Linked DNA regions of Homo sapiens. The protein of the gene in region 4 purifies or fractionates together with the protein of the main gene of each other region. This does not show direct contact. Each region holds a gene or a part of one and is shown on either strand. Other genes may lie near its edges. The genes, in order: CABIN1, NASP, CDIN1 and UBN2.

What was found.
Region 1: the proteins of UBN2 (region 4) and CABIN1 purify together in Homo sapiens (affinity purification with mass spectrometry, with the first as the bait; one large-scale study listed by BioGRID). This does not show direct contact.
Region 2: the proteins of UBN2 (region 4) and NASP purify together in Homo sapiens (affinity purification with mass spectrometry, with the first as the bait; one large-scale study listed by BioGRID). This does not show direct contact.
Region 3: the proteins of UBN2 (region 4) and CDIN1 purify together in Homo sapiens (affinity purification with mass spectrometry, with the first as the bait; one large-scale study listed by BioGRID). This does not show direct contact.

Annotation. Positions count from the first base shown.
Region 1 is NC_000022.11:24,017,775-24,021,347, forward strand, and holds part of CABIN1 (calcineurin-binding protein cabin-1), read left to right. Parts: intron 1-3,573. UniProt on the Homo sapiens protein: May be required for replication-independent chromatin assembly. May serve as a negative regulator of T-cell receptor (TCR) signaling via inhibition of calcineurin. Inhibition of activated calcineurin is dependent on both PKC and calcium signals.
Region 2 is NC_000001.11:45,615,001-45,617,249, forward strand, and holds part of NASP (nuclear autoantigenic sperm protein), read left to right. Parts: intron 1-12; coding exon 13-201; intron 202-304; coding exon 305-471; intron 472-1,336; coding exon 1,337-1,393; intron 1,394-1,625; coding exon 1,626-1,703; intron 1,704-2,249. UniProt on the Homo sapiens protein: Component of the histone chaperone network. Binds and stabilizes histone H3-H4 not bound to chromatin to maintain a soluble reservoir and modulate degradation by chaperone-mediated autophagy.
Region 3 is NC_000015.10:36,806,607-36,810,798, reverse strand, and holds the end of CDIN1 (CDAN1-interacting nuclease 1), read right to left. Parts: intron 2,476-4,192; coding exon 2,346-2,475; 3' UTR 555-2,345; downstream 1-554. UniProt on the Homo sapiens protein: Plays a role in erythroid cell differentiation.
Region 4 is NC_000007.14:139,255,181-139,258,753, reverse strand, and holds part of UBN2 (ubinuclein-2), read right to left. Parts: intron 267-3,573; coding exon 129-266; intron 1-128.

The DNA.
Region 1 (3,573 bases), on a different chromosome or scaffold from region 4:
TGGGTTGCTTTCACCATTTTTTTTTTTTTCTTAGCTTCAGCTTAAAGGAGGCCACCTTTCGACTATTGTAAGTAATGCTGTGTCCCTCAGTTGTAAAACGTTATTTATTTATTTAAAATAGTATGGTGCTCTTGTCACCCAGGCTGGAATGCAATGGCGTGATCACAGCTCACTGTAGCCTCAACCTTCTACCTCAACTGCCCTGAGTAGCTGGGACTACAGATGTGTACCACCATGCCCTGGCTAATTTTTAAATTTTTTGTAGAGATGGAGTCTCTCTGTGTTGCCCAGGCTGGTTTTGAACTCCTGGCCTCAAGCAATCCTTTCACCTCGGCTTCCCAAAGTGCTGGGACTAAAGGTGTGAGCCACCATGCCCATCCTGTTTCTCAGTTTTTAAGAGCTGTTTGTATATTAGGGGTATTAGTCCCTTGTCAGTGGTATATGTTGCAAATATTTTCTCCCAATTTGTTAGCTTTTAATTTTTTTTCTGAGTTTTTAAATTTTTTTTTGTCATGCAAAAATTTTTAAATTTTTATGTAGTTAAATGTATCACTCTTTTACTGTTTGTGAATTTTAAATCATATTTGGCCCTTCTCTACTACGTAATACTAAGTGTTAATACAAAGGTTAAAGAGGAATTCACCAGTATCTCCTTTAGTAGTTGTATGGTTTCATTTTTTATCATTTAGATTTCTAATTCATTTGCAAGTTTATTCTTGTGAGTTATCTTTTTCCAACAGTGAATACTGTTCCAGCAGTATTTAATACAAAGTTCATCTTGACTCTAGTGATTTGAGATGCCATCTTTGCCATATTTTTTATTTCCATATGTACTTGAGTCTAATTCTGGACCTCATCTTTTTGTGTACATATGCAGCAGTACCTCACTGTTTCATTATGAAGGCTTTGTACAGTAGGTTTTAATGTCTGTTATACCTATCCCCCCTTACAGTTTTTTTTTCATTGTTTTCCTAGTCTTAAATTTTTGTTTTTCCATATGAATTTTAGTATCAACTTGTCAATATTATCTTGTCAGTATTTGTATTGGGATTGCATTGAATGTATAAATTAACTTGGGAAGAACTGACATCTTTATATTTTTGAATCCTATCCAGGAACAGGGGATGTCATTTCATTTGTTCAAGTTAACTTTAGTGTCTTTTAATAGTGATTTAAACTTTTTCTTGCACAGTTTTAATTAACTTTATTCCTAAGTATTTAATGATCTTGTTGCTATTGCAAATGGGATTTTTCTCTACCATAATGTCTTCTTTTATGGTTTGTATATATGAAGGCTATTGATTTTTATGTATTAATCTTATATTGTGCAACTTCACTGAGTGTTGTTTTTTTTTTTTTTTTTTTTTTTTTTTTGAGAAGGAGTCTCACTCTGTCGCCCAGGCTGGAGTGCAGTGGGGCAATCTTGGCTCACTGCAACCTCCGCCTCCTGAGTTTAAGTGATTCTCCTGCCTCAGCCTCCTGAGTAGCTGGGATTACAGGCATGCGCCACCATGCCCGGCTGATTTTTTGTATTTTTGGTAGAGACAGGGTTTCACCATGTTGGTCAGGCTAGCCTCGAACTCCTGACTTCTTGATCCTCCTGCCTTGGCCTCCCAAAGTGCTGGGATTACAGGCGTGAGCCTGTAATTTTTGTATTTTTGGTAGAGACAGGGTTTCACCGTGTTGGCCAGGATGGTCTCGAACTGCTGACCTCAAGCAATCCACCCACCTCAGCCTCGCAGAGCACTGGGATTACAGGCATGAGCCACCATGCCCCGCCTGCTGAGTTATTATTGAATAAATTTTATCATTGATTTTGGGGTTTTCCAGGTAGTATATCATATTATCTACAATTAGTGATAGCTTTTCTTTACCCTTTTTTTTTTTTTTTTTTTTTTTTGAGACGGAGTTTCGCCCTTGTTGCCCAGGCTGGAGTGCAATGGTGCAATCTTAGCTCACCACAACCTCTGCTTCCTGGGTTCAAGCAATTCTCCTGCTTCACCCTCCCGAGTAGCTGGGATCACAGGCATGCGCCACCATGCCCAGCTAATTTTGTATTTTTAGTAGAGACGGGGTTTCTCCATGTTGGTCAGGCTGGTCTTGAACTCCCGACCTCAGATGATCCACTCACCTCAGCCTCCCAAAGTGCTGGGATTACAGGCGTGAGTCACTGTGCTTGGCCTTTACCCATTTTTATATCTCTAATTGATTTATCTCTTCTAATTTTATTGGCTAATATTGCACAGGTGGATAGTAGCAGAGATAGTGGACATTTTTGCTTTGTTCTTGATATTAATCTCTGAAATTAATGGACATGCCTCTGAAATAAGGTTTGCCCATGAAATAAGATTTTGGCTTTAGGACTAAGGTGTATTTATATATTAAAGTATCTCAATTTCTGTATTTTCCTGAGTATTTTTTATTATGAATAGATATTGAATTTTGTCAGACTTTCCCTTCTGTGGAGATAATCATGTAATTATTTTTCCCTTAGATGATTACATTGTGTTTTCACATGTGATGTGTGTTTTTTTGTTAGTATCTATTTTTTATTTTTTTATTTTTGATACGGGGTCTCACTTTGTCACCCAGGCCGGCATACAGTGGTGCAATTACTGCTTACTGCTGCCTCAACTTCTCAGGCTCAAATGATCCTCCTCCGTCAGCCTCCCAAGTAGCTGGGATTACAGGCATGTGCCACTATACCCAGCTAATTTTAAAATTTTTTTTGTAGAGATGAGGTCTCCCTATGTTGCCCAGACTGGTCTCAAACTCCTGCCTCAGCCTCCCAAAGTGCTGGGATTATAGGCAGATTACAGTCATGAGCCACCATGTCTGTCCGTTAGTATTTCTTTAAATTTCTCCAACATTTTCATTGCATTTCCTTTTATCTGGAAGTTGTTTATCAGGAGATTCTCAAATTTTTAGATAGACACACCTTTCTTCTGTTGGTGGTGATGGTCGTGTTAGTAAATTCTAGTTTTAAGCATTATGATTGGCAAGTGTTGTTTTTAGTATCTTTACTTGATGGAAGGTGTTTTCTTTGTGACATGAGCAGTTTTTGTGTGTGTGTGTGTGTGTGAATGTGCTGTGAGCACTGGAGAAGAATATATCATTTCTGTTATCAAGGTGTGGAGTTTGATATACATCTATATCATCTCCTCTGTTATGTTGTTTAGATCAATCATCTGTCTCCTCATTTTTTCTCCACTTGATTTGTCTTTAAAAAAATTTTTTTTTTTTGAGACAGGGTCTCACTGTGTATCCCAGGCTGGAATGCAGTGGTGTGATCATGGCTCACTGCAGCCTTGAACTCCTGGGTTCAAGTGATCCTCCCACTTCAGTCTGCTCAGTAGCTGGGACTACAGGTGCATATCACCATGCCTGGCTAATTTTTATTTTATTTATTTATTTATTTATTTATTTTAGAGATGGGGGTCTCACTATCTTGCCCAGGGTGGTCTCGGACTCCTGGAGTCAAAGGATCCTCCAACCCCAGCCTCCCAAAGTGCTGGGATTACAGGCATGAGCCACCAAGCCTGGCCATCATTTTAAAATATTTTTGTAGAGACA
Region 2 (2,249 bases), on a different chromosome or scaffold from region 4:
TCTCTTTGTTAGAAAACTATGTGCAAGCTGTGGAGGAGTTCCAGTCCTGCCTTAACCTGCAGGAACAGTACCTGGAAGCCCACGACCGTCTCCTTGCAGAGACCCACTACCAGCTGGGCTTGGCTTATGGGTACAACTCTCAGTATGATGAGGCAGTGGCACAGTTCAGCAAATCTATTGAAGTCATTGAGAACAGAATGGGTGAGTGAAGACGAGCTGCTTCATGGTGATGTTGGATCCAGCAATTAACAAGGAAGAAAACAGTTCTTTTTTGAGCCATTACTAATCACTTTATTCTTTTTAGCTGTACTAAACGAGCAGGTGAAGGAGGCTGAAGGATCGTCTGCTGAATACAAGAAAGAAATTGAGGAACTAAAGGAACTGCTACCCGAAATTAGAGAGAAGATAGAAGATGCAAAGGAGTCTCAGCGTAGTGGGAATGTAGCTGAACTGGCTCTGAAAGCTACTCTGGTTGGTTCCGTTAACATTTTGATAATAGCATGTTTGGTACCATTTATGTTAATGTTCTATTTGCCAGGAACTTTTCATCATGACTTGGTTTCCAGGGAGTTGGTGGGCTCATCTAATTATTCCTATCAAGTAATGCAGTGGTTAAGAGGAAATACCCTGGAGCCCCAGACTATCTGGGTTTTAATTCCATACTTACGTGTGGCCATGGGCCTTTCTCTCCCTCAGTTGACCGATTTGTAAAATGGGGATAATACAGGTTGAGTATCCTTACCTGAATGCTTGAGACCAGAAGTGTTTTGCATTTCAAATGCTTTTGGATTTTGGAATATTTGCATCATACTCAACAGTTGGATACCCTTAATCTAAAATCTGAAATGCTCCAGAGAGCATTTCCTTTGAGTGTCAGTCAGTCCTCAAAAAGTTTCAGATTGTTGGATTAAGGGATGGGATGCCCGACCTGTAGTACATATGTGTAAAATATACTTCTGACAGTACTGGAAAAATAGACATTTCTTAAAAAATGTAAGTTGCTATTTCCATCTCCAAGAACTCATTTGCATAAATTAATGAGGCATTGAGAGGCATTCACCACAAATTGCCTGGTTCTGTTTTTGGCACAGACCTTTTTACCCTGCAGGTAGGATATAGAAGATTTAGTTTATTATGTACACTCTATGTATAGACTATGCTCTGGGTGGCTGCTAGACAGGCATAGGTGGGCCAGGGGTAGAACTGGATACTATATGGAGGCCACTAGCATTTCAGGTCTTAGTCAGTTGTTTGGATGGTGATGGGTTCCTGTTACAAGGCTGTGGGCGGCCTGGGTTCTATCTTCAAACTAATTTGGATTTGTCATTTCTCGCAGGTGGAGAGTTCTACTTCAGGTTTCACTCCTGGTGGAGGAGGCTCTTCAGTCTCCATGGTGCGTATTCAGGTGGTTTTTTGGTCACTTACATTAAGTCTCAGTGTTGGCTCATGCCTGTAATCCCAGCATTTTGGGAGGCCAAGGCAGGAAGATTGCCTGAGGCTTGGAATTCAACACTAGCTTGGGCAACATAGTGAGACCTTGTCTCTGAAAAACTAAAAAATTATAAAAGCCTCAGCATTGATCTCATATAGCTTGTACAATTGCTAATAAGGGCTTATTTTGCCAGATTGCCAGTAGAAAGCCAACAGACGGTGCTTCCTCATCAAATTGTGTGACTGATATTTCCCACCTTGTCAGAAAGAAGGTAAGTCTACATGTGGTGTTTCTTTTCTACCGTTTCCTCAGACTCCATTTTTAATCCCTTTCCTATAAACCCCTCCCTATAGTTGGTGCATATAAGACACTTATTTTCCAAAGGTGGTAAGGATTTGTGAGTGGAGACTGTTGTGTTTTGTTTTGTTTTGAGACGGAGTCTTGCTCTGTCACCCAGGCTGGAGTGCAGTGGCGCAGTCTCGGCTCACTGAAACCTCTGCCCCCCGGGTTCAAGTGATTCTCCTGCCTCAGCTTCCCAAGTAGCTGGGATTACAGGCGCCCGCCACCACGCCTGGCTAGTTTTTGTATTTTTAGTAGAGACTGGGTTTTGCCATACTGACCAGGCTGGTCTTGAACTGCTGACCTCGTGATCCACCCACCTCGGCATCCCAAAGTGCTGGGATTATAAGCGTGAGCCACTGCCCTCAGCCAGGGAACTCTGAACTCCTGTTCTGTTTCCTGACTCAAACACAGGAATTCAAACTTGTACAGTGATTACCATTCACATCTCCTCACCCCAACCCTATCTCCCTGTGCT
Region 3 (4,192 bases), on a different chromosome or scaffold from region 4:
CAGTTTTACGTTTTACACACGCTCCTGCTTTCTGGCTTTGCATAATTCATTAGCATAGTGTGCAGAATGCACCATAAAACAAGATTTGGCTTTAATGTTAATGTTCTAATGATGACAGCAATAAAAATAAGTTGTCATTCCGTGTCTACTTTCTGGGGCTGATGTTTATATTGTCTAAACTAAAAAAACCAGCAAGCAGACAATGCATAGAGATGGAACACAGACAAGTATTTTTAACAGAAAAAGAAACAAACCAAGGAGACTTTAAGCTTCCAGTTGGGAACATTACTCTCTTCTCTCCCATACAGCTCCAATTCAAAAGTAGTATAATTATCACATTAGTTTTTATGTGTGAAAAACTTACTTTTGACTAATTTGTAACCTTATTGTAGTGTGTACAGTTTACTGTTGGGTTCTTTCTCACTTTTAAGGGCCAGATTTTAAAGCCTCATTCATAAAGAGGAGGTAGTGCCTTTGCTAGGAACACCAATACCTTCTCACAACACATTATGTCAGGGCAGCAGGTAAAAGAATAAATACAAAACGCAAGTACCTTTTTTATTTTTTAATTTATTTGTTCACGTTCATCATAATAAATTTGTTTAATGTAAAATAAACAAATCCTTGACAAGGGTTTAACAGGATTTTCAACATCTGTGCAGATAAATGTAATTTATTCCTAAAGAAAAAACAGTTTAGAACATGCCAGGAAACCTGCTTTTAACATTTTTGTATAAAGTGTGTGTGTGTGTGTGTGTGTGTATCCAGGCAATACAGTAGTGGTTTCAAATCATTCTATTTCACTCAGAAGCCTGCATGATGAATTTTATACTGAAACAGAAGTTTGCCTGACCCTTCTTTAGCATTTCATCTTCTGCCTCTCTCTTTTGATTTAATGCACCCCACTCAGAGTTAAAATCCACACATGTTGGGACCAGGTTTGTGTCCTTCAAAAGGAAAAGCAGCAGGCATATTTTTACAAACCTTCTTTGGTAGAAAATAAACAAAGTATAAATGACATATTTAGTCTTTTGAAAAAAATCAAGCAATGTATATAAGTTAAAGCTGTCTGCAAAAATTACATTGTTGTTATTAGTATTTCCCATATCATCTATTCAACATTATAAAAGTTGTTATGTCAGCATGGCAGGGTGGCGGGGGCAAATATTTTACTAAATACGTTTTGGGTACAGATTAATATTCAACTTCCCAAAAGATAGGTTTATTATTAACTTACTGATGTTTCGCTTTAGACTGAAATCTGATTTGCAGTACATAAAAGTACACAAAAGTGAATAAATTAAAGTGAACAAATAGAAAAATCTCCTTTATTTTGCTTATTTAAAAATTGCTCCAGGTTTATTTCTGGCACACTCAGTTCATACAAAGCTAAACATTTCTAATGCTGAACTTACTCGAGTGTTTTATAATTACATGGTATAAAATGCATATACTAAGCAGTATACAGAATGTGCCTTTAAAAAACTCGACTCATAAAAATACTAGCTCACGTACATACTGACAACTAGCCATGTTTAAAAATAAACTCTCCTCAATGTTGGGTTGTCGCCTCTCGGCCCCCAATCTAAAGGAGTGTGGTTTCCAGGCACAATGGAACTAATACTTTCAAATAAGATAAATCTAAAATATGTGGTGTTCAAATAACATTATTAAAAGAGGAAATTCTCATCAAGTGTATTTTTGCACTTGGCTTACTGTCACAGAAGTCAGGAAGCCGTAAAGATTGAATATAGCAAACACACAGCATAGGCAGGCTGCCATCAAGGTCTTCTGGAGCTCTGCAGGTGAGTACAAAGGTGGCTTTGGACTTTGTGGCTTCAGCTTTCCTAGGTTTGCGCTAGATTATTCCACGATGGTAATGCAATGCTGGGTCTCTGTGAGTGCACATGAAGAGAAAGGGAGAGGGAGAGACAGTGAACGGAGGCTTAGGGAAAAAAAAATAAGAGGGTGATTCGGTAACTGGGAGGAGAATTGAAAAATCACACCTTTCAGTCTTCACATTTTTTCTTTTGTTCAGCATACAAGGATAAACCATCCGGAAGAAAGAAAGATTATGACTATCTATAAACTAATTGTTTGACAGAGACAGAAATGCTGATAATGAGTGGGTTGTGTCTGTAGTTCTTGGCTGTTCACATCAGCAAGGGATGAAGGAAAACAGAAACTCTTGATATGTTTGTCTAAAGAGGTAGTGGTGTGACTACGGGCAGCAAGAGTTCAGCTGAAGTTCAGGGCAGATGTTGCCAGGATCTTACAGTGCAGGAAAGTAAAATTGCTTCCGGATTCACCTTTTCCTCCCAGCTTCTCTTCCAGGATCTTCAGGGTCAAGCTATGCTGTGGCATAAGGTGACAATGTTCGTGGGGAAACAGGCTTTGAGCAGGATGCCCCTTTCCCGGTTGCAGTCCAGCTCCTGGATAAATCCATACCAATAGATGACTAAGCCTGGCCCAAATCTGTAAAAACACCAGAAAATAACACACACACATGGTATCAACAGAGCTCTTGAAAAAAGTCACCTTGGGGCACTGATAAGATGATTAAATGACAGGACTGCACAAAATTTTTGTTTTGGTTGCTACCATTGTGACTGAAAATAGCCAAACTTATACCAAAGAGTTCACATAACACACATACTACCTTCTCGGATGGATGTGTTCCCTTTCTTTCCAGAAACCTGAAGTATTTCAGATATGGAAACTCTGAATCTTACCTTTCAGTAAGGTGTTATGAGCTTGGGCTGATGTGACTACCTAGCTGATGGAGGACAGATTCACAGTGCAAACAGGAATGAGCTGGGGAATGCCAGCCTTGGGATTTAAGTCTAACATTTAATGGTACTATTTAAAAAATTAAACTTGCCTAATAGCAACTAAGAAAAATAAAAGAATGTTTGAAAACAGAATTTAAAAAAATGCAACAACTTATGGTCCTCTTCTGGCTATACTGTTCTACTTATGCACCCATTGGGCTGGAAGTACCTCCTGTCATCCATATGACACACTGGGTCCCTTTACTCTCTGCATTACAACTTCTTTAAGTGTGGACACAGCATAAAGTTTGGTCATTGGTGCTTACGGAAATGAGGAATAAGGTCATATAGGCTTGTGACAAAGTATAGATCGCTACGGGCTTAATAAAACCTCAGCATTTCTAAGTTGTGCCCTCTGAATTATCTGCAATTTTGTTAGCAGTGACTGATCCCCGCCAGGCAGACTCAGGAAGTGGCCCTATGGACTACTTCACCCATCAGGAAGTTGAGACCTTTAGGCTGGGTTCATAAAGATGTAATCACTATCAATCACTGCACACAGAGAGATGTTTTGCACATCAGTTTCACGTTTTTCCTACCGAGGGCACTTAATTAAAGGGCAGCACTACTTTTGGTGTAGTGTTGCAGGAATTTTACAGTGAAATAATAAATTATGAATGTTGGGTTAGTAAAAGCATGTCTAAAAACAGAACTGCTTTCTGTATTCTAACATTACAGCAGGCTGAACCATGCTAGGCCAAAAAGCTTTTGCCTTCCATGATTTATTATATGCTGTAGTGTACTTGCCAAAACTAACAATACAGGATGGGCTGCGAGATACTGTATGCACAGGGACAAGTTCAATTGGATGTCACGGCCTGGTTTATTTGGGGATCCACATTAGTGGGGTAGCCAAGTTGTATTCAAGATTATTTAAAACTTTGGGATTCCCCTCTGTGCAGGTACAGAACCATGAGATGGCAGCTCATCACTTGATCTTGTTCTAGAAGATGTAGGAACTGGGTATAATTAGAAGCCTTGGAGCACCAGGCCCACTGAGATTTATCAGCTGCAGATGTTCTCTTCTTCCTCAGCATCCCCAAAGAAGAGATTCCTTTGGGGTCAGTAGAATTAGGCTACCTGTGCACAGGTGTGTGGGTCCCCAGGCTCAAATGCATACAAGACGAAGCTCACACCTGCAGAAGAACTTGCTTCCATTTAACCGAGGGTTTCTTAGTAACTTTTAATCACAAACACTTGTCTGTAATTGGAACATAAACCATTGGTACCTTTATTTTACAAAGAGCTCTATGATTAGTGTCAAATGATCTCAGATTTGTCAAAACAAGTCTGGCAAGAACAGAAAGATTTGTGATTCTGTGGACCATGTCTGAGAAGCCACAAACCTTCCCATCAGTGAA
Region 4 (3,573 bases):
TATATATTCATGACACAATGGTTTGTATTTTACTTTTCCTTACATTCACACGTGTGACACAAGTAACATTAAAAAAAATCCTATTAATTGAACATTCTCAGTACTGTTGCAATGTTTGATAAACTCACCTTGGGTGGCTTGTGCTTTTGGTTGTCTGTAATATCATCTTCTTCAGTATCTGAAGCTTGGCGAAACTGTAGAGTGCCAGTGTTGATATAAAAGCCTCCATATTTTGTTGTTAGAGAAGCGGGAACTAATTCATCATACTAGATTAAAAAACAAAAAAGTTTCCGCTATATCCTGTTGTCTTTAACTCTATAAATGTCAAAGAAATTCATCCACCATGGCAGCATCTCCCTTAAATCCTAACTGCAACACAGACTGCAATAAGGATGTTTGTAAAATAAATTTAGAAAAGGTTACTATCTGAAATAAAAATTAGTTCTGATAATTTGGTGTAAGAAAAAAACTTCTGAAATAATAAAGTATATTCTAAATATATCACCTGCTAAGAAAAATTTAAGGATCACTGCTACTATTCCTTTTTCTTCCTTCCCACTGCTACTATTCTTAATGACAAATGGTTCTGATGAGAAATCAAGTTTAAAAAGATGACCAAGTGTCCAGATAAGGAGTAAATTTCATTTCCTACCATAAGGAGATTTTATAAAGAATAACAAAACTGGCTGGGTGCGGTGGCTCACGCCTATAATCCCAGTTGGGAGGCTGAGGCGGGTGGATCACCTGGGGTCAGGAGTTCGAGACCAGCCTGGCCAACATGGTGAAATCCTGTCTCGACTGAAAATACCAAAAATTAGCTGGGCGTAGTAAGCCCAGCGACTCAGGAGGCTGAGACAGGAGAATCCCTTGAACCCAGGTGGTGGAGGTTGCAGTGAGCCAAGATTGCGTCATTGCACAAGAGTGAAACTCGGTCTAAAAAAACAAAAAACAGCAACAACATTCTGTTTAACAGAAACTATTTTTTCTGTCTTAGCCGTATGCTTTTAAGTGGAGAAAACTTTAAAAACATTTAATTTAGGCCGGGCATGGTGGCTCACGCCTATAATCTCAGCACTTTGGGAGGCCAAGGCAGGTGGATCATGAGGTCAGGAGTTCAAGACCAGCCTGGCCAACATAGTGAAACCCCATCTCTACTAAAAATACACACACAAAAAATTAGCCGGGCGTGGTGGGGTGGGTGCCTATAGTCCCAGCTACTTGGGAGGCTGAGGCAGGAGAATCGCTTGAACCTGGGAGGTGGAGGGTGCAGTGAGCCAAGATCATACCACTGCACTCCAGACTGGGTGACACAGCGAGACTCTGTCTCAAAAGAAAGAGAAAAAGAAAGAAAAATAGCAAATATATTTTAGAAAAAGAATAGCACATATTTTAAAAGAATTGAATAGCATAGAAAAACAACTGCCCAGTTCAGAAAGCACATACTTGAGGACCTAGAATGAGGAGGTACTTTGCTTGGAGCAAGGAACTCAATTTGTTTAAATCACACTTATGTTCCCAAAGGCTAGATCTCAAGGTTTATCATTACCTCACCTGATAAAGATGGCTAAAAAGCAAACACTAAGTGAAGGACAACTTAACCAAATGAAGGTGTTCAAAGTAGGAAAGAAAAAAGGAACTTATCTGATTGTAGAAAGATATCTGTTACCTGGGATCTCTAGACCTCTACTTCCGAGGTTCTTCACATCATCTAACTAGTCTTTAAGAAAGTCAGATTTTTAGGGAAACTTCATTGCCATGGGCAAGGAATATACATATCCTATTAGTTACTGTAAGAATATAAGGCTAAGTACAAAAGTTGTAATTTTAACCTGTATCTTTTTCAATTATATGGAGAATGGAAAAATGAAGAGGTTCCAGTTTAATCACACTGAATTAAAAAGAAATAAAATGATTGAAGAAAGGTAAAAGAAAAAAACTACTTTCTTATCGTTCTACTTGATACACTACTAGAAAGATCTACTACAAACATCTACACTATTATAAAGATCTTACAGAAAAGGGGCAGTACCATCTGCAAATAAGTGATATGAGGGGTGAGGGATTAAATGTGAAAAGACAGTAATAATTTCGAAAACTAACTGTGATAAGATAAAAACACCTGTACTCTTTGCCTACATTGTTTTGTACAATGCTTTATAATTTTCAATACTTCTTCATATAAATTATTTCATTTGGTCCTCATGATACCCTTGTGAGGTAAGAAAGGCAAATATTACTCCCACTTTAAAGATGAAAGCCAGGTAAGCACCTTACCAAAGCAATTCTATACATATGTTTATGGCAAAGTCAGTGGCTGCCTCCAACCCATCTAATTTATTGTAAAATAAATTTAGAAAAGGTTACTATCTGAAATAAAAATTAGTTCTGATAATTTGGTGTAAGAAAAAAACTTCTGAAATAATAAAGTAAATTCTAAATATATCACCTGCTAAGAAAAATTTAAGGATCACTGCTACTATTCCTTTTTCTTCCAAGCAGCTTCACGTGGGAGTGAAACATGTTCATCTCCAGGTATACAGGGCAATTCTGATGTGCTCAAAGTCTGTTTTCTTATGCAGTATTCTGCTGAGCTTTTCCTATCCGAACACTCTTCAGAGGAATACACTCTTTGTGAATATTTAGTTCAGTCATTTCAGTAGAATGTGTTAAGAGGTAACACACTGAACTTAAGAATCAAAAGGCCTGGATTTAGATTCTTTGCCTATGACTAGCTACTGTGACCCAGGGAAAATCACTTAACATCAAATTTGGAGGGTTATAAAACAGGGACAATATTACTTCACAAAGTTCTAGTGAAATTTAAAAGAGACTATCTAAATAAAAGTGTGTGAATCATGCCTGGTATCATTATTTATTAATAATAAACAAAACATTTTCTTTCAGCTCTTTTACAGTTTGGTAGCATAAATATGAGACTAAAAATAATCTTCAAAAGCATTTATTTTCAGGTATTTATTTTTAGTAATTCGTGCATGATTCAGAATATATTAAACAATATGCCAACACTGAAAGCTTACTGGCAATACAATAAATGAAAAGAACAAGAATCATTTGGTTCGACCATAGTTGTTTTATGTCTGAATTATCTCATTAAAAAAAAACAAATAATATGTCAAGGGCAAAGACACTAAGTTATTTTGTTAAGTCACGCAACCTGCATTTCAGTTCAATTTCTTCTTATAAAACAGGAACCTACCTTGTTCAGAAACTAGTTGTATGACTAAGCAATTCGTATCTACAAAATTTATCCTGACTTATTAAAACAGAAGTTTTCCACTTTTCTTCACCACAGCCCAAGTGGAAAATACATTACCCATCAAAATCTAGCACACACATACACACACAATAAAAACTGTATAGTCTACCAATGACGTACTAGTTCCTATTCTATTTGATTTCATTTTCTTTAAAAATACCAGTCATGCCCTTTAAGTTGATATATAAGCCAATTATGGGTTACAAAAGTCAGCATGAAAATATCCTAAATGCTATAAAAGGAGATATTAAAAATGCTATTTATAAAAGTTACATACTATATGATTTTCTCTATAA